2 separate regions of the Homo sapiens genome follow, and region 2 is linked to region 1. Evidence: fine-mapped expression QTL. A gene starts in region 1. The other region holds a variant in brackets. All regions are shown on one strand. Distances are from middle to middle. Region 1 holds the start of UBAC1 (UBA domain containing 1). Region 2 overlaps CAMSAP1-DT (CAMSAP1 divergent transcript).

Region 1 (9,719 bases):
TGAAGAATGGCAAACACTGATGGTGCCGTGTGATGAAGACTGAGGTCGGCACATGTGCCTGCATGTTCGTGCCCAAGTCGGTCCAGAGCTCCACGACTCCACTCTATTATCTACCTCAGCACCATACAGCCCGACACACGACAGCACAGCACAGCACACCACCGCACAGCACAGCACCGCACACCACACCAAACAGTGCCCACCTAACCAAATATGGCGCCTCCCCAGCCGGAATCGTGGGGTGAGAGGAGAGGGGCTGCACTTCTGTGTTTCACAAAATACCCACAGTTTCCATAGCCTGGCCTGAAAACCCTTCAGAACTCAGAGCTTGGACGGAGAGAAGGCTGACTATTTTCTTGCTCTTACAGATCCCCTGAGGTTTGATGGTAGAATTACCTGACTATCAGAAAAGGATGAAACCCTCACTGGGCACTTTCTAAACCCGGTAGCAGGCTCAGCCTGTGGGTCAGGAGCATGGCCCAGCCTGGAGCTGGGCCGGGGCACCACCCCAGGACAGGCCGTCCTCGGACGTCTCAGGTGGCCGGGCAGACGCCCTGCTGGCAGCTCACTTTCCACCACCCTTTGCTGCCACAGAGGCTCTGAAACACCCAGCACACACAACTGCTTGCTGGGAAAGAAAATCTAAGCACACACTTCACCTCTCAACACTGGCATTTTCAGAGTAACTGGAATTTCTGTTACTCTCAAGACTGAAAACGGTTTTGAAAAAGGGATTGACGGCTTCAGGGGCTCACTCCTTCACACAAAACTGGCCAGGCTGAGGGGATGTTGGGGGGACGCAGCTACTAGGAAGACACACTCCTGCCATTTACAACAGGGCAGAGAACCCTCAAGTGCCTCTGGATTTGACAATGGCTCTGCTCCCTGAAATACTGGGGGTGCTTCCTCATGATCCTAAAGTTTGCAGGCTAGTTCATTTGTCAAGTTCAGAATACAGACTACGAAATGCAGTTTTCCAAAATAATTCTCATACTGATTCCCAAAAAACCCACAGTCCACGTGTCACCAGCACACCAGGAACAACACGGAAGCACTAGGACGACCGTGTCACTCTGCTTCTTTGTTCTCGGCAGAAGCTGGGGTATGGCAGCAAAAAAGCCCCAACCAAGGCCGCTGGAGTAGGGAGGCCCTCACACCCCCACCCCACTCCATCCTGCTCCTCCCCAGAAGAGTAGTGACTTCGTTTCTGCTTGTACCTGATGCAACCTGCCATCTGAGGACCCATCTTCATGCGATCTAGGAAATGGAAAATTTAACAGCTATACTAGCGGGTACTCTCTTCTAGTCTGGCAATTTTATGAACTCCTTCTTTTTTTTTTTTTTTTTTTAAAGACAGGGTCTCATTCTGTCACCCAGGCTGGAGTGCAGTGGCGCGATCTCCGCTTATTGCAACCTCCGCTTCCCAGGTTCAAGCGATTCTTGTGCCTCAGCCTCCTGAGTAGGTGGGATTACAGGAGTCCGCGACCATGCCAGGCTATTTTTTTACATTTTTAGTACAGAAGGGGTATTGCCATGTTGGCCAGGCTGGAATTTCATGAATGTTTACGACACACCAAAAACTCTACTGCACCACAGGTATAATTTTCTTTTTTTTTTTTTTTGAGACGGAGTCTCTCTCCGTCGCCCAGGCTGGAGTGCAGTGGCTTGATCTCGGCTCACTGCAAGTCCCACCTCCCAGGTTCACACCATTCTCCTGTCTCAGCCTCCCGAGTAGCTGGGACTACAGGTGCCCGCCACCACGCCCGGCTAATTTTTCTGTATTTTTAGTAAAGATGGGGTTTCACTGTGTTAGCCAGAATGGTCTCGATCTCCTGACCTTGTGATCTGCCTGTCTTGGCCTCCCAAAGTACTGGGATTACAGGCATGAGCCACCGTGCTCAGCCAGGTATAATTTTCTAAAACTCATTAACTACCTGTTGTACAAGACAGGTTCCTCTGCCCCCTTCTCCACTCCAGGGCAATGGAAGCTAGAGGCCACCACGGTGATCCCAATTTGCACAAAACAGAAAAGGGAAAGGCAAAAGCAAGAGTTTTGATCATAAAACCCCTCCTTGATTCAGGAGTGCACACCCAGGAGCACAGCAGGGAGAAGCCGACATCATTCCCCTCCAGGCAGATGGAAAAGAGGAAGGAAAAAATCATGCCGGCGTCAGCACGCACTGGGGACCTGGCGAGGAGGAACAAAGCTAAAACAGACACCAGACCTCACTGCCTACAGCAGGATGACATCCAGGGACCGGCTTCCAGAGAGACATTCAAATACACAACTCGAGGGTTCTCTTTTCTGACTAACGCATTCTGGCCCTGCCTGCAGAACCACGCTGGGATGTGGTGGTGGGGAACCTTTCTGACGCTCAGCTCTGGAGTCCTGAAATGTATGTCGGCTCTTGCGGTGTGAAAATCCCCTGCTACTCAGATCCTCCACACCTGTGGAAACCGCAGAGTGGGATACAATCTCAATTTAAAGTAGAATAATGACAAAACATCCCAAATGATACATCTCAACACCAAATGGAATAATATATATCAGGAGTATAATAATTAGCATTGCATCGGAACTGGCTGCCTAACTGACCCTCCGTGCTCCTGAAATTCATGAGTAGGTATCTGTGGATCAAACAGCTCTCATTTCCTATTTCCTTTCATAAAAGAGTATCATGATGGCCATGCACATCGCACCGAGTGAGTTAAAGTAAATGCCGTGCCAACGCAGGGGACATCCCATGTCGATGCAGTGTGGGGTCCACAGGATATTTTTGTCTATTCCATTAACCCACAAGTTTGTTTTGGTGCCACTCTAAGCCCGGCCCTGGACTTGTGGATATAAACCGAACCCCTGAGGAGCTTCTGTACTGGCTCAGGGAGGACACAGCAGCACCTCAGAGAAGTTTCTAGGGTTTTTTGTCTGGTTTTTTTTTTTTTTTTTTTTTGAGACGGAGTCTTGCTCTGTCGCCAGGCTGGAGTGCAGTGGCGCGATCTCATCTCACTGCAACCTCCGCCTCCCGGGTTCAAGCGATTACCCTGCCTCAGCCTCCCAAGTAGCTGGGATTACAGGCACACACCACCACGCCCCGCTAATTTTTTGTATTTTAGTTGAGACGGGGTTTCACCATGTTGGCCAAGATGGCCTCAATCTCCTGACCTCATAATCCGCCCACCTCGGCCTCCCAAAGTGCTGGGATTACAAGTGTGAGTTACCGTGCCCGGCCCAGAGAAGTTTTTTAAAATACACACAACTAGACAAGCAACACCACCTGGCTCAAACAGCCTGGATGCCCACGGAGTTACCGGCGCTGGAGCTTAGTGATGCCCCGATGGTTGTTCAGACGGCAAAATCATGCAGACTGGGGCAGAAGAAAAGCAAGAAAGCAGCCAAAACATACCGGCCCTTGAACGCAGGAGGCTCAGCCCCCTCCTTGGTGTGAATCCTGAGGCCAGCACCTCCCAGTTATTCACAGCCAGTGCGTTCCAGAAGGGGGCTTGCCAAGCTTGCCTCTGACAGTTCCAGAACTCCACAGAACCATGCTCACAAAAGCAACTCGAAAGTACTGTATGCGAGCAGCTACTATGGTAAGAACTGAAGTTTATCCTTAGAGACCACACTCAGCTCAAGTGTAACGCACTCAACCTGTCAACACAGATACGTCGTAACTTATCACATGGAGTCGCCACTAGAAAATTGCAGCCTCCTTCAACCTAAATTCTGCCAAGCCCTCAGATCATGTCAGGTATAGACAGGAGGTCAGTCTGACACACAGACAGGCTTCTTAGCTGACCTTACTGAGTCCTTTAGAGACTCGAGAACTAGTTCCAAAAATCAGCAACCTAAGGAACTAAATACACAGGAGTATTTCAGGTGAATAAACTTTAAAAAGTGTCTCCGCGAGGAGACCCTACTCCTGGGACTTCTCTCTTGACCAATTTTACCTCTGCAGAAAAGCAGGGGCGCAGGGCCTTGTCCCGCAGCGGCACTATTTCAGGGACTCCAGCTAAAAGGCACAGTGGCCTGGGGCCAGCCAGGAAAAGAGCTCCAAGCAGCCGGCTCTGCGGGAAAGGGGAAGAGGAAGGAGAAGGGGCCTCTTCATGAAGGAGCCTACGTTAATTCTCAGCTCTCAAAGATGCTGCTGAAAAAAAACCTCACCCCAACAGCAAAAAGGTACAACTGCCGGAAAGTCCCGAGGCCCTGCTCCGTCGGCGACTTCACTCTCCAGGCCTCAGTTTCCCGATCTGCCCCTACCTCCCTGCGTGGCTGCAGAGTTAACTGAGAGGCTGGCGTGTACAGGGCTCGGCCGGGCGGCTGGCACGGGGCGAGCGCTTAGTGACCGGAGTCCGCCGGCCGAAAGGCCAGGCCCGGGACGAGCGTCCAGAGGTGTGGGATCCGAAAGGGGGAGAGTCGGGCAAACGGGCAGGAGGCGCTGCCTCCACCCCCGGAGGAGAGGGCCTGGGAGCTGCGGACTGGGCGGCGGACCCCAGGTCGGGGCGGTTCGGGGACTGAGGCGGGGTCCGCAGTCGGAGGGGTCCGGAGCGGGTGTTGGGGGCAGGGGAGGGGGCCCGGCCTTACGTGCTTGAGGCAGCGCTCCTTGAGCTTCTCCACCGAGGTGTCCTCGGTGGCCTCCTCCAGCCACTCGGCGCCGTCGGACGCGCAGATGTGCAGCCGCAGCACCTTGCCCGCGAAGATCTTCTCCTCCTGCACGAACATCCCGCCGCCGCCGCAGGGGCCTGCGCCCGCCACCCGGGCCCCTGAAGGTCACCGGGAAGGCGGGCGGGGAGGGGGCGGGGCCAGACCGCCCGCGCGCTCCTTCGCTGGGCCGCCGCCCCGCCCCGGCTCCCGTCGGCCGGGCCGCCGTCACTCTCCGCGGCCTCAGCGGTCGCCTCGCTCCCGCCGCCGCAGCAGCCGCCGGGGGCGCGCCGTCGCGGCCGCACCGGAAGTGCGTCACGGGCGCGTCTGGCGCATGCCGGGAGATGTGGTTCTCGGACAGGCGCCTCGCTCCCGCCGCCGGGGGCGCGCTGTGGCCACCGCAAAGGAAGTGCGTCACGGGGCGCGCCCGGAGCATGCCGGGAGCTGTAGTTCTCTGGTAGCTTCGTTCCTCCCCGAGCTGCAGGCGGTTCCCACCCGGGGCACTCACCACGTGGGACCTCATGGGTTCTAAAGGTAAAATACACGCTGGATCCCAAAGAAGTAACGGGAAAAAGGAATGTAAGGCATCTCGATAATGTTTTCATATTGATTACATGTTGAAATAATATTTTGTATCTATTGAGTTAAGAAAAATATGTCATTAAAATTAATTTCACCTGTTTCTTTTAACCTTTTTAAGATAGAATTTTAAATTGCCTACATGGCTGCTGTGATATTTCTTTTGCACTGCACTGCTGTAGAACGGAGGCTCTCCAAAGAACTTGGCTTTAACAAGCCTAGGTCTTTCTAATTCACACGCAGATCAGAGAGTCACTGTTCCTGCGAAGCCTAGGTTTGCGGGGCACCCAGAGGGGAGGGAAGCCGCCCTTGGTGCAGGTGATGCCAGGCAGACTCATTTTCTGTGGGGTGTGACAAAGAGTCTTTGCTTGGCCAAACTTAAGCAGGCTCCTGAACCTTCTACATCATCTGTACACTTCCTTGTAAAATCCAGTTTTAGCGAAGAGCCTTGATAAGTGAGTTTAGCAAGAACTCCCAGCCTCAATATCAGATCACCCTGGACGTCTGGTCAGGTTCCTCGTCCCCCAGGTGCTGTCTGATATCTCCAGCCTCTCTTCAGCAAGAACCCTGTCAGGTCGGTTTAGCCAGAACCGCCCACATCCCTGATGTTTTCTCCTATTAATTTTCCATTCACTGACCCCACCCACTTGCCCTTGCTGTATTGGGAGTTGAGCCTGACCTCTCTCCCCACTGCAAGCCCCCTTGGCAGTGGTCTCTGTACCTAGCTCAACAGTCCTGGATAACGTCTTACTTACCATGCTCCTAAATATGAATTTTGTAGTTCAGGTTAGACCTGACACATTGACTGATCTGTACTCATTCATCCCATTCATTTAAAAAAACTTTACTGCGCAGAGATGAATAAGGCACAGTTCCCGTTCTCAGAGGTTAGCAATCTAACCGGGGAGGCTGTCTCTGCCTCCTGCCTGCAGGCTTTTATTCTGTCCACACCATTTTGCACACACATCCTCATTTTTCTCCTGTGATAATTCCAACCTCGTCCAGATTCCATGTGTCCAGTTCAGCACTTACTAATTGCCTCTCACAGGTGGGAGCCTCTGCTACTCAATGAAAATATGGTAGTGATTAAGACCAGACACCAGGATACAGTCCTGGAATGGGGCATTTTTAACGCAGGAAGCAGAAGTACCGACTGTTAGAGACCGCAGTGGAGGTGGTGGTAGTATCGTGGAAGCTGGTGGAGGAGAAAGGGGAGGAACACCAAGGTGGTGAGTGGAGAGTGGGGGAAGCTAGAGGGCTTGGAGGAGCCGGGTCAGAGCATTAAGACGTTGCTGTGAGAGCCACTAACGGTGTGACCAGGTGGCAGAATGAATGGTGGTGACTGTGGAGGGGACAGGGAAGAGGGCAGGGCATCCTTGCGGGGGAGCAATGCGGAGGGAGAGGAAGAGGAGAAGGGGGCTTCCAGTGGCCTGTGGGAGGGGAGGCCAGCAGGATTGGAGGGTGTGGGCCCAAGAGTGAAATCAAGGATGACTTGAAGACTTCCAGTGTGGGTGGCAGAGTGCAGGGCAGTGCCACCTTTTGAAGTAGGAGGCAGGAGGAGGAGCCATTGGCCAGGAAGGTGTTGGGTAGTTTTGGACACGGGGACCTGGATGTGCTGGGGGCATTCACACGGAGGTGGCCTGGAGGCAGCTGGACCTACAGGACTGAAGTTGAGGAGAGAGGCCTGGGCTGGAGACAAACACTGGGCAGCCGGCCTGGGCCACGTAGCAAGACCCTCTACAAAAAATAAAAAAAATTAATGAGCTGGGCGTGGTGGTGCACACCTGTGGTCCCAGCTACTCAGAAGGCTGAGGTGGGAGGATCACCTGAGCCCAGGAGGTCCAGGCTGCAGTGCGCCGTGATGGCACCACTGCACTCCAGCCTGGGCAACACAGCAAGACCCCGTCCCAAAAAAACAAAACAAAACAAAAAAGTCAAACCAGTCATGAGCACACCAGCGGCAGCTGGAACTAAGAGGATGCCCACCCCCCTTCCCATGCAGAGGAGCTCATGAAGAAAACAGAGGAGTATGGTACTAGGAAAGTTCCAAGAGTGTGGCTCCATGAAACACAAGGCGGAGAAGATATTGAGGAGAAAATGGGGCCTGTAAGAGAAGAACCAGAAATATCACGTCATCTCAGGGAGCGTCTCCAGGGACCGGAAGGGGACTGGGGCCCAAGCCTGCCTGGCTGCAGATCTGGTATCTGCAGCCACAGTGATGCTGCATAACAAAACCGTCCTAAAACTCAGCGGGTAAAACAACCAACAGCTCTCCATCACTTCTCACAAGTCCACGGCTGGCTGGGTGGTGCTGCTGACCAAGCCAGGCTGGCAGGTGGGCTGGTCGGGATCCCTAGGCCCTCAGCCTCGGTCTCATGTTCCCCAGTGAGTTCCCACGGGAGTGTCTGGGATCCACCGCAGCAGGTTTTTCAGCCTTTGCTTGAGCCATGTTTGTTGATGTCCTCTGGACCAAAGTCAAAGAGGGAGGGGACAAAGTGACAGGGAAAGGATGGAGCCATGGGAAAGCCACCAAGAGGCCACAGATGCACCTGTTCCACCTTCCAAGAAGGCTGGGGGAACAGAGAGAGGAGGGCACCAGCCACGGGGTGCCCAGCAGCATGTTTACATTAGAGAGGCTGGGCGCGTTTCTGGGCTGAGCGTGAGAGCGGGCAGAGGGGAGGCTGGGGCTGGAGGAAGGAGGAGGGATGGGGTGGCTGGGGAGGGGGCTGAAGCTGTGGCCTCAGGGCATCCCGCTTGCTTCTGACAGGAAACATCTGAACCCCCCATCCTGGCATCAAACCTTCCCAGTCTCCCTGTTTCCTCCTGGCCACGGGCTTTACAGCGGGGGGACAGTGCCATCACAAGGACCCTGCAAGGGTCCACAGAGGCCACGCTAGCAAAGACTCAAGCCAAAGCTGACCTGAGTCCTGGAGGAACGCCTGTGCCCTCCCGTGGAAGGATAGGAGGTTCGTGGTACTCTGAGACCACTCCAGCCCCCACCCCGCTTCACCCACGAGGCTGTCAATTGATGGGTTCTCATTGTCTCCCCTCCTCTCATGGGTTTGAGGCTGTTTCCTATAACAAATTGCCACAAACTGGGGCTGGGGGGTGGTGCTTAAAACAATAGAAATGTATTTTCGCCCAGTTCTGAAGGCCGGAAGTCTGAAATCCAGGTGTTCATGGGCCACGCTCCCTCTGGAGCCACAGGGGAGGGTCCTTCCTGCCTCCTCCAGCTCCTGGGGACTCCGGGGTTCCTTGGCCTGTGGCCACATGGCTGTAGCCTCTGCCTCCATCTTCATGCAGCCTCTCCTCTTCCCATGGCTGTCCTTTGTGTGCCTCCCATGAGGACACTTGTCATTGGATTTGGGGCCACCCTAATCTAGGATGATCTTACCTGGAGATCCTGAACTTAATTACATCTGCAAAAACCCTTCTCCCCAAATGAGTTCCCACTACAGTTCCAGGGTTGGGACACAGATGTGTGTTTATCAGGGCCACCAACCAGCCACCAGAGAGGCTTCGGGCCCAACCCCCGGGTACAGCGGGAGCCCAGCAGGGGCTCCTTAGTGGCAGGTAGTTCCCACCCTGCTGGAGTCATCGGCCTCTGCCGTTCTGATGCTGTCCTTTTTGGACAAGGGCTTATGCTCCTCCTCCCTCATTGTCTGTGTCAGAAGTGGCTTCTTGTGTCTCGTGCAGCCAAAGCACTCAGGCTGGCCTGGCCTGGCCTGGCCCCTCACCCTGCATCCTGAGCCTCAGTGAAGCCCCTCCCTCCCTCACCCCTGGGTTGCTCCCGGCCATACCAGCACTCCTGCTTCTCTCCCTACCTCGAAGCCTGTGCCAACCTAGCCCATTCCTCAGGCTCAGGGCCTCCTCCTCCAGGAAGCCCGCCCTGGCTGCACCTCCTCTGGGACACTACTCGGCACACCAAGTGTGTCAGCAAGGAGCCTGGAAGTTGCTGGAAGCCACCTCCCTGTTGGTGGCAGCTCTGCCCCAGGCTGAGGTCAGCTGGCAGTACCTCCCCCCAGCCCCTGAACGTAGGAGAGGAACAGCAATGCCAGAGAGGTCTGGGGGGAGTCCCTCTCCAGTGGCCAGGCTGTCCTGAGGCCTCCCAGGCCCCACTCTCTGGGACTCCCTGGGGTGAGGGGCCAGCATGAAGGGAAGATCCCAGAGTCAAATGGCCCAGTCTGGCATCCACACTGTCTCTTCCCAGTCAAGAGGCCTGGGCAGGTTCTTTTCTTTCTGTCTTTTTTTTTTTTTTTTTTTGACAGAGTTTTGCTCTGTCACCAAGGCTGGAGTGCAGTGGCGCGATCTCAGCTCATTACAAACTCTGCCTCCTGGGTTCAAGTGATTCTCACGTCTAGGCCTCCTGAGTAGCTACGATGACAGGCGCTGCCCCCACACCCTACTAGTTTTTGTATTTTTAGCAGAGACGGGTTTTCGCCATGTTGGCCAGGTTGGTCTCGAACTCCTGACCTCAGGTGATCCGCCCGCCTTGGCCTCC
Region 2 (9,960 bases), 36 kb before region 1:
CCTGGCACTGTCTGCTGGGTGCGGGCCCAGCCCTGGGAGGACCCAGCAGGGGTGCTCAGACCTCCCATCCCATGGCTAACCCACCGCTGGGGAGGAAACCTGTGGACACTTGCACTGAAAAATGTCACTCTCTACAAGTATGCAAGGGAGTCGGACCATCTCCCATCAGACCTGGACACCCGCCGGACACCACAGCCCCTAACACTCCGGCCAGGTCGCTCCAGGCTGGCACAGGTGGCACCCAGCCAGTCACACTTAAAGCAGGGTTTCCCTGGCCTTACCATATTATCACTCCCCAAGGAGGAAATGCGAATTTTTAATTAAGTGAATTAAATGCTAATTTAATTAAGTGAATTAAATTCCATTTCTCCCTTGTGAGATAAATAATAAGGAATGCGGTTTTGCCAGGTAGGGGTGAGCTTTGAACGGCCACAGCATGGGACAGGTAAGAGGTCTGTGCCACCCGAGACCTGGCGAACGCCCGAGTTTCAGCCTCACGCACATTCCTTCCCCAAGAGCAGCTGCGCTCTGTTCTCCCACGGGAGAAGCTGTCTGCTCTTGGTGCTCCCAGACACCTCCTGGGTTTGCCCGTCCTGCACTGGGCTCTGTCCTCTCTCACACTGCTCGGCCAGCCATCCGGCTCCTGGGACGGGCGAGCCCAGGACACCCCCCGGGCCTGCCTCCACACAGGTGCTCTCTGAGGCCACCTTGGGCTCCCCGGCTCTGGCCCTGCTCCCCTGCCCTGCTTGCCTGTCATGCTGCGTGGATCATGCCTCGGTGTTCCGTGACTGCTGGTGTTCAACGACCTGAGAAGTGGGACGAGTGGGCGCTGTTTCCTTATGCATCAGGAATCTGGGGGCCCTGCAGAGAGGTGCCATCACCCTCACCAGCCCCAGGTTCCCACCTCCGTGGGGGGAGGTAGAGGGACAAATGGGACACCCTCGTGTGGATTGTGGCACATGGACCCAGTCCCTGTCACCCTAGTCCAACATGGTCAGGTGCCAGCCCTTTCTGGAACCCTGGCCTCTGGTCACCCCACCCTCCTGGGTGACCTGATCCCCAAGCATTTCAGACCCAGCTGCTGGAGAAGGCAAAATGCACCATTACCCACACATCCCCTCCCCTCCTTCATAACCCTAACGCTAACTGCACACCTGCCTCCTGGAGCTCTTCCCCGAGCCTGCCTGCCTCGCCTTTGCTCCCGTGCCCCCAGCTCACCTCCTGCTCTGGGTGGTGACCCGGGTGAGGCCTCTGGCCCTCACAGCCTCTGGGCGGCCCCAGACCAGCCCTGCAGATGCCCCTAGGCATGGACGGAGGAGTGGGGAGCGATGAGAGAGGAAACCCTGACCTGGCTGAGCTCTGAGCCCTTCGCCTTCTCAGTGGCCCCAGGATGGCCCAGCTGGTAGCCCAGATATCCCCAGCGGGCCGGCCCATCAGACCCTCCCCTGGCAACAAGGTCACACAAGCCTTGGTAAAGGTGGCAGTGTTCCACCCTGGACCCAGGCCTTCCAAATCGGGCCCTGCACCCCCTCAGGAGGGGCACAGGACTTTTCCCCACCTGGCCCCCAGCCTAGTTGGAAGTCAGGGCAGGGTGAGCCCATGCTCCTGGGCATCCGGCCTGCAGGCTGACGCTTGCTCACCTCATTGTAAGGAGGTCATTTTTTATTATTTAAAAAAAATAATGGAGACAGGGTCTTATGTTGCCCAGCCTGGTCTCGAACTCCTGGGCTCAAGCGATCCTGCCACCTCGGTCTCCCAAAGCACTGGGATTACAGGTGTGAGGCACCGTGCCCAGCCTTTCTATTTTTTTTAATTTTTGTAAAGTGGTAATTTCAACATATTACCATCTCCCCTAATGACAGTGGTTTGTTTGTTTTGTTTTGTAGGTTTTTGTTTTTTGGGGTTTTTTTTGAGTCTCACTCTGTTGCCAGGCAGGAATGCAGTGGCTCAATCTCGGCTCACTGCAACCTCCACCTCCCAGGTTCAAGCGATTTTGCTGTCTCAGCCTCCCAAGTAGCTGGGATTATAGGTGCCTGCCACCACGCCCAGCTGATGTTTATATTTTTAGTAGAGACAGTGTTTTACCATGTTGGCCAGGCTGGTCTTAAACTCCTGACCTCAGGTGATCCGCCTGCTTCAGTCTCCCAAAGTGCTGGGATTACAGGCATGAGCCACCCTGCACAGACTTTCTTTTTTGAAATGGATTTTCCCTCTTGTTGCCCAGGTTGAAGTGCAGTGGTGCGATCTTGGCTCACTGCAACCTCCATTTCCTGGGTTCAAGTGATTCTCCTGCCTCAGCCTCCGGAGTAGCTGGGATTACAGGGGCCCGCCAAACTCCTGACCTCGTGATCTGCCTGCCTCGGCCTCCCAAAGTGCTGGGATTACAGGCGTAAGCCACCAATCCCAGCCTTTTTTTTTTTTTTTTTTGAGACGGAGTCTGGCTCTGTTTCCAGGCTGCAGTGCAGTGGCGTGATCTTGGCTCACTGCAGCCTCTGCCTCCCAGGTTCAAGCGATTCTCCTATCTCAGCCTCCCGAGTAGCTGGGATTACAGGAGCGCACCACCACGCCTGGCTAATTCATTTTTTTTGTATTTTTAGTAGATGCGGGGTTTCACCATGTTGGCCAGGATGGTCTCCATCTCTTGACCTTGTGATCTGCCCGCCTCGGCCTCCCAAAGTGCTGGGATTACAGGCGTGAGCCACTGCACCCGGCCAACTTTCTTTCTTTAATTTTTGTAAAGGTAATTTCAACATATTACCACTTCTCCTAATAATAGTGTTTTAACAAATATTAGGCAGCTTCATTTTTGCTTTGAGTTGTGCTTTTAAAAGAACTAAATTAGGTCGCTGGAGATTAAAGCATTTACCATTTAGCAGGCAGGGCCTGTCCAGAGCCCCAGTCGGGAAAACGGGCTAAACAGCTGGCTTAGCTTTAGGACTTCCCTCGTTCCCTCCTCTCCCTCCAGTCCTGGGGACGGAGGTCTGGCGTGGGGATCAGGGTGGCCTCCGCCCACTCCCCTGCGACCCCCAGGCTGGGCTCCAGGAGTCAGCGGGGAGCCCCAGGTGGGGGATCTCTGCGCCCCAGCCCTTCTGGGTCAGGCTAGTTACCTCCCGCGGTGCAGCACGCATCTCTGTCTCCACTGACTTGCAAGGCTAAAAATGTGCAGAACCCAAACCAAAATGTGCCTGCCCATTGTGTTTAAAATACCACTGTTGCAGATGTATTACTGTCTGGCACGGTGGCTCACGCCTGTAATCCCAGCACTTTGGGTGGCCGAGGTGGGTGGATCACGAGGTCAGGAGATCGAGACCATCCTGGCTAACACAGTGAAACCCCATCTCCGCTGAAAATACAAAAAATTAGCCAGGTGTGGTGGCAGGCGCCTGTACTCCCAGCTACTCGGGAGGCCGAGGCAGGAGAATGGTGTGAACCCGGGAGGCGGAGCTTGCAGTGAGCCGAGATCGCAACACTGCACTCCAGCCTGGGCGACAGAGTGAGACCTCCGTCTCAAAAAAAAAAAAAATTAGCTGGGCATGGTGGCACGCATGCCCGTAATCTCACCTACTCAGGCGGCTGAGGCAGGAGAATCACTTGAACCCAGGTGGCAGAGGTTGCGGTGAGCCGAGATCGCGCCATTGCACTCTAACCTGGATGACAGAGCAAGACTCTGTCTCAAAAAACAAACAAACAGAAAAAACAAGTGTATTACCATATGGAAATTATTTTATGACAAAGCATGCATATTGGTTTGCTTAAATAAACCGTTCTGACTAACAGTACTTCAGGCCCAGCATGGAAATTTTGAAAAATCACAGATGATAAAAAACACGAGACTAGCTTGGGTCTCAAGTTTTTCTTCCTTGGAGTTTTGGTTTTTCATGAACTTTCTGGGAAATGAAATTTAGTAGTTTGGGGGCATCGATTAGTTCATAGAGGATGTAAAACGGAGGGATTGGGTTCGACGCCTTAAAAACACGGAAGTTACAGCTGGAAAGAAAATTAGAGGCAATTTTTTTTATTTTTGTATTGAGGGGAAATTCACATAACAAACTCAGCCGTGCTAAGGTGGACAATTCAGTGCCGTTGCATTCATTCCCGATGCGTCGCAGCCACATCCATCTAGTTCCAGAACACTGTCATGCCCTGGGAAGGAAACGCCCTCCCCATCAGCCCTCACTCCCCATTCCTCCCTCCCCCAGCCCGTGGCAACCACCCATCTTTGTGTCTCTGTGGATTCGCCTGTTGTGGACATTTCATAGAAATGGAATCAAGACAACATGTGGACCTTCATGCCTGGCTTGTCCTGCTCAGCATGATGCCTTCAAGGTTCACGCGTGTCGCTGCGTCAGGGCTCACCTCCTCGTGTGCCGAACACCCCATTGTCTGGGTGACCACATGTTGCCCCCCTACTCCTCCACCAATGGGCTTCGTGTTGTCGCCACCTCTTGGCTGCTGTGAACCCGTTTGACTTTTTGAACTAACTTTCAGATTCACTCTTGTAGTTTCAAGGTCGAACCTACAGAAGGCGAAAGAAACCCGCCGGCTCAGGAATTGTGCAACCAGTGGCCTGGCGGCTGCAGGTCCCCCGTGCTGGGGGTCTTGACTTTGATGCTTTCCCAGGTGCCCACTTGTTTCAGGAGCCTCCAACCTGTGAACCTCGCACACACAGCTTGGTGCATGTCAGGTAGAGCCTAGTAGAGCTGTTCTTTTTTGGGGGGGTGGGGGATGGAGTTTCACTCTTGCTGCCCAGGCTGGAGTGCAATGGCGTGATCTCGGCTCACTGCAACCTCCGTCTCCCAGGTTTAAGCAATTAATGGTGAGGGCAGCCACATCATGGAAGTGGTGGGCCCAGCCTGGATAGGAGGGAAGCAGCGAGAGTGTCCGCTGTCTGCGAGGGCCACCCTGGCCCCGGACTCACTCCTGGGTAGGGCCTGTGGGGTCAGACCCCCTCCCTCAGCGAGCCCCAAGGAAGCGTGGGGTCCGACCGCCGCCATCCTGGGACTGAGTTTGGAGGCCTCAGTGCTTGGCTGGCAAGAGCAGCCACCTGGGGACACGGTGATTAATTCAGCATCAGAATGCAAGCGTGGGAGTTTCCAGGAACACTGAGGTTCAGGTCTGGGGGCGGAAGAGAAAAGCAGCTCATTCTCAGAAAGCACTGAGAGGCCGGGCCCTGTGGCTCATGCCTGTAATCCCAGTGCTTTGGGAGGCTGAGGCAGGATTGCTTGAGGCCAGAAGTTCAAGACCAGCCTGGGCAACACAGCAAGACCCCGTCTCTAGAGAACATTTAAAAACTAGCTGTGCGCAGTGGTGCATACCTGCAGTCCCAGCTACCCTGGAGGCTGAGGCGGGAGGATGCTTGAGCCCAGGAGTTGTGGGCTACAATGAGCCGTGATGGCTGCACTGCACTCCAGCCTGGGTGACAGAACGAGACCTCGTCTCTAAAGTAAATACATAAAACCTAAAAACAACGGCCGGTTGTGGTGGCTCACACCTATAATTCTAGCACTTTGGGAGGCTGAGGTGGGCAGATCACAAGATGAGGAGTTCGAGACCAGCCTGGCCAACATGGTGAAACCCCGTCTTACTAGAAATAAAAAAATTAGCTGCGTGTGGTGCTGGGCGCCTGTAGTCCCAGCTCCTCAGGAGGCTGAGGCAGGAGAATGGCATGAACCCAGGAGGCGGAGGTTGCAATGAGCCGAGATCTTGCCACTGCACTCCAG[C/T]CCGGGCGACAGAGACTCCGCCTCAAAGAAAAAAAACAAGGAGAGCCCTGCAGGCCCCTCCTTAGGCTGGCCTCAGAGGTCTTCAGTGGCCAGAGGGTGTGAGGATCTGCGGGACGTGCCGACTGGGGCAGCCCCCACCACACCCTGGGATGCACCCTGGCTGGGACCAGTCTCCAAATTCCCCTGCATCCGTCTCAGGCTGGAAAACTCTCCAACAAAGTTGCCTCCAGTCACTGGATGGGAAGCGGCCTCTCAGCTGAGCCGGACCCTCTCTCCTTCAGCTGGTGCTGCAGTGACTCCAAGTGACCAGTGACACCAGGTGTGGCAGCTGCGCACAGCCTTTATCGTGCCGCACTCAAGGGCCCCGGGAAGGGAACCCAGGCAGGGCCCAGTGCCATGGTGGTCTCCACTTCGCCGTGGAGAGAACGGCCAGGTGACCCAACCACAGCGAGGCCTTCAGTGTGTTCCTCACTTCCACCTGTGGCGGTCGCTTCTGGCTGTCACCCTGAGCACATCCATGTGGCCTCTTGGAGTGGCCTCTCCACGTGGCCTAGGCTTCCTGGCAACGCAGCCGCCTCAGGGCAGTGTGACTTCCTGATGGTGGTGACTCAGGACAACAAAAGCGAGAGGCCCTGAGAGTCAGGCGGGCACCACAGGGCCTTGCTGAGGCAGCCGGGGACTCCCGCTCCCTCTGCTGACACCATTGGTGGCCAGTGAGTCAGAGGCAGAGGTGCCAGAGACCCCGCCCGAAGGGAGGAGATCTGAGAGCCTGCAGCCACAGGCTCCTCCAGGACTCGAGCACCGGGGCCGCACAGAGAGCCCTTTCTCTCCTGGGCAGGCCAGGCGGGGATCCCCCAGCGCCCTAACCTGCTCTGTGACCACGGCAATGTGGCCTTGGGGATGTGCCCTGCCTCTCTGGGTTCCAGTGCAGGACTCAGGGCTGGCCACCTGAGAAGCATCTCTAGGACATTCCAAAGCCTGGAACAGGGACAGCATTGTGGCCCTGCTCTGGAAGGCTGCGTGGAAGCCAAGAAGTTGTCCTGGCCTGTCCTGGAGGTGCCTTTGCCCTTGCTTCCTGTCCTTGTCCCCAGGGGCTGCACCCATCCTACTGACTCTGCCAGCAGTGCCAGCCTGGTCCCAGGCACCCTGGAGCTGCTCCATCCCCATTGGGGGCCAAGAGCTGCCGGCCCACACCAGAGGCCCCGGCCACACAGGAGCCACGGGACAGCCGGAAGGGAAGCCAGGAGGCCTTGCTTGGGGAGCTGGGCACACGCCTGGCCTCCCCGTGATGCTCCCCTGGACGACACACGCACGCACACATGCACGCCTGTGCATGCACACAGAGCACACATGCACACACACGCACACCTGTGCATGCAGAGCACACGCACACACACACAAACCTGTGCATGCACACAGCATACACGCATGCACGCCTATGCATGCAGAGCACACATGCACACACATGCACGCCTGTGCATGCACACAGCACACATGCACACACCTGTGCATGCACACACACACATACATGCCTCTGCATGCACACAGCACACACGCACACCTGTGCACGCAGAGCACACACGCACACACACGCACGCCTCTGCATGCAGAGAGCACACACACACACATGCACGCCTGTGCATGCACACAGAGCACACACGCACACCACACCACCACACACACACTTCAAAAACCACACACGGGCGACGCCGCAGGCAGAGTGTACCACAGCCCCGCAGCTGCCACCCCTGCCCTCTGGGAGAGTCCGCTTCCGAGCTCACTTCGAGGAGGATCTTTCTGGCGACAGAGCCAGTGCTGTGGGCGGGAAGGCCCCACCTGACCACACCTCCTGCTCTGTGGCACCTGTGTCCCCGCCACCCCCCAGCCCGAGTAAAATCATTTCTCTAGACTCTGCGGCTGGGCCCTGGAAGTCAGGCTCTCCCCGACCTGCCAGGGCAGTGCCTGCTGCGGCGGAGCCTGGACACCAGGTCTCCTGTCTCCATCCATCTCCACTCAAGGACAGGGGTGCAGGTCCCAGAGCTTTTGTCAGGACTCTGCCAGCTTGCAGAGCCGCTGCGGCCACAGGGCTCATGGTCCCAGGCCTGCTCCACCACGGCCCTCGGCAGTGGCCCTGATCCCTGGCTGTGGCCCTGGTGCCCGAGGCTCACACCAGGGCAGGAACGTGCTCTTGGGTGTGGGTGGGGTCCACTCTGACAGGGACCTGGAAGGGCCCTCACAAGTCTGGGATCCAGGCCCTTGTCATTCAGGAGCCCAGGAGGGGTCAGCCAGGTCCCCAGAGGGGAAGGGGACGTGCCTGGGCTGTGAGGTCCACAGCCTCTGGGTGAAGCAGAGGCCAGCCCAGGATGGGGCTCACAGTTCTCAGGAGCCCGGGAGGTGGCACTGGGAGGGTGGGCATCCCCGCCCACCCCAGAGAGGCCAAGCACAGGGCAGGAGTGTGGCCACACGGCCCAGGGGGCGCATGGCTGCTGAGAGGAAGAGCGCAGTTGCCTGGGGGAGGCTGAGCACGATGCAGGGTGGACAGAGACCCCACTGCTGGGCGAGAGCCAGGCTCATGCCCTGCTGGCGCCAGAGCCTGCCCACAGCCCAGGGGCTGCCTGGGAGGCGCGGGAGGACCACACTTGGGGCCCTACACAGGCTGGGACTCATTCTGAGCCCCTAAGGACAGCTTGTGGGTGAAGGGAGCCCCTCTTGGGAATGTGGAGAAGAGAGTGGGGCACCTGCTGGCCAAAGAAAGCCCTGGGCCCACCCCCAGTTATGTGGGCAGTGACAGTTGGGGACAGGGCACTCAGCCATGCTCCCCGGCGACTGCTGGGTGATGAGCAGCCCAACCGCAGGCCCTGGCCCTGCCAGCCCTGGGCTTAGGCTGAACCCGTCAAAAAGGCCCTGCCTGGCCTTGGAGAGCCCACCGTGCCCTGCGGGGTATGAGGCTGGCAGACCCTTGAGGACCAAGCCAGGAGACATCCCTGGCGGAGACTCGATCCCAGGAAAGTGCCGGGGGTGCACTGGCAGGTTCCCCTGCAGGAAGCCAGCTCTTGGGAGCCCAGAATGCAGGCACCACCCCACAGGGGGCTCCCTCAGACTCCCTCGTGTGCCAAGCCAGTGAGCCCGCCTGGGAGTGGGGCAAGGGTGGACCTCACTTAAGTGCAGCTGTTCAAGGGGAGACCGTCAGGCGGGAAACCAGAGCGAGCTCTGAGAGAACGTCGAAGAGCCACTAACTGCCTCAGACCCCCGCCCCCAGCCCTGCCCAGTCTGCAGCATCCAAACCCTTGTCCCCCAGAGCCACATGGCTGTGTTCTCTGCCTGGGAGTCAGTCCCCAGCCAGGCACCAGGCATCCTCACCTGGAGGCAGCTGTGCCTTCCAAGCCTCCACTGGGCACAGAAAGCTGCTTGCAGGTGCCACACCCGACTCCCGGCCCTAACCCGAGAGAGAGCCCCTGGGTGGGCGGGGGCACCCCTGGGCACATGCTGTCTCTGGGCGGTGCTCTCATGGTTAGGAGGCTCGGCCACATCTGCACATGAGGGTTCCTTCTCTCCAGCCTGTGCTGGGCCCAGAACGCCAACAATGCCCTTCCTCTGGCTGAGGCTGTGCCCAGCGCATGAATGCTCTGCCCACCCCACACCCTGCAAATGGCAGCTCATCCTCCTGCCTTCCCGTGGGACCAAGCATGCCTCCAAGGGCAGCGAAGGGCACGGGGGCGAACCCCACAGCTGGGCTGAGGCTGACCCAGGCAGGCCCCACCTGCTCCCCGGATGCACTGAGGCCCCCGATGGTGCTGTCCCCACACCCCCAGCAGGAATGTCCTCTGGGATTCAGGCTCCTGCGGTCTCTGGCTCCCATGCTCCCTGTCCCAGCCCCACCTCCCACCCGCCTGTTCCAGCGAGTGTTTTCCAAGTGCCTCCACAACCAGCCAGCCCTGAAACGGGACGGAGCAGGGCCCTGACCTCGAGAAGGATGCAGGCTGGTGGACCCCCAGCCTCTCCCACATCCAGTACCTCCCGGAGCCCCCCAGTCCCCACCAGCTGACAGTGAGCCCCACCCCTGCCTTCAGACTCCTCACCCGGGGTCCCACCGCCATGCCAGCTCGCTGTAGTGGCCCAAGTGGCTGGGCCACCTCTCTCTGCACCTGGGGGGAGGAATCCCCTGCTTGTGTGGACGGCGCCTACAGTCGGCACAGCAATGTCCTGACCCCACGATCTCAGGGGAAGTCACCCCTCCAGC

Evidence for each region.
Region 2: its variant is fine-mapped to the expression of UBAC1 in caudate (GTEx, PIP above 0.99). The same link has a PIP of 0.9 or more in amygdala, anterior cingulate cortex, aorta, cerebral cortex, esophagus muscle and gastroesophageal junction.

What each region holds. Positions count from the first base shown.
Region 1 is chr9:135,956,443-135,966,161 of GRCh38, forward strand. It overlaps UBAC1 (UBA domain containing 1), which reads right to left and starts at 4,931. Exons shown (of 10, transcript NM_016172.3): 1 at 4,583-4,931. The coding sequence starts at 4,720. RefSeq lists silencers at 4,541-4,660, 4,671-5,080 and an enhancer at 4,551-5,051.
Region 2 is chr9:135,920,672-135,930,631 of GRCh38, forward strand. CAMSAP1-DT (CAMSAP1 divergent transcript) reads left to right here. Exons shown (of 2, transcript XR_007061860.1): 2 at 1-359. Among named protein-coding and RNA genes, the nearest start is that of CAMSAP1-DT, 18 kb to the left of the region's middle. RefSeq lists enhancers at 5,124-5,203, 6,240-6,289. The variant C/T (reference allele first, on the strand shown) is at 5,721.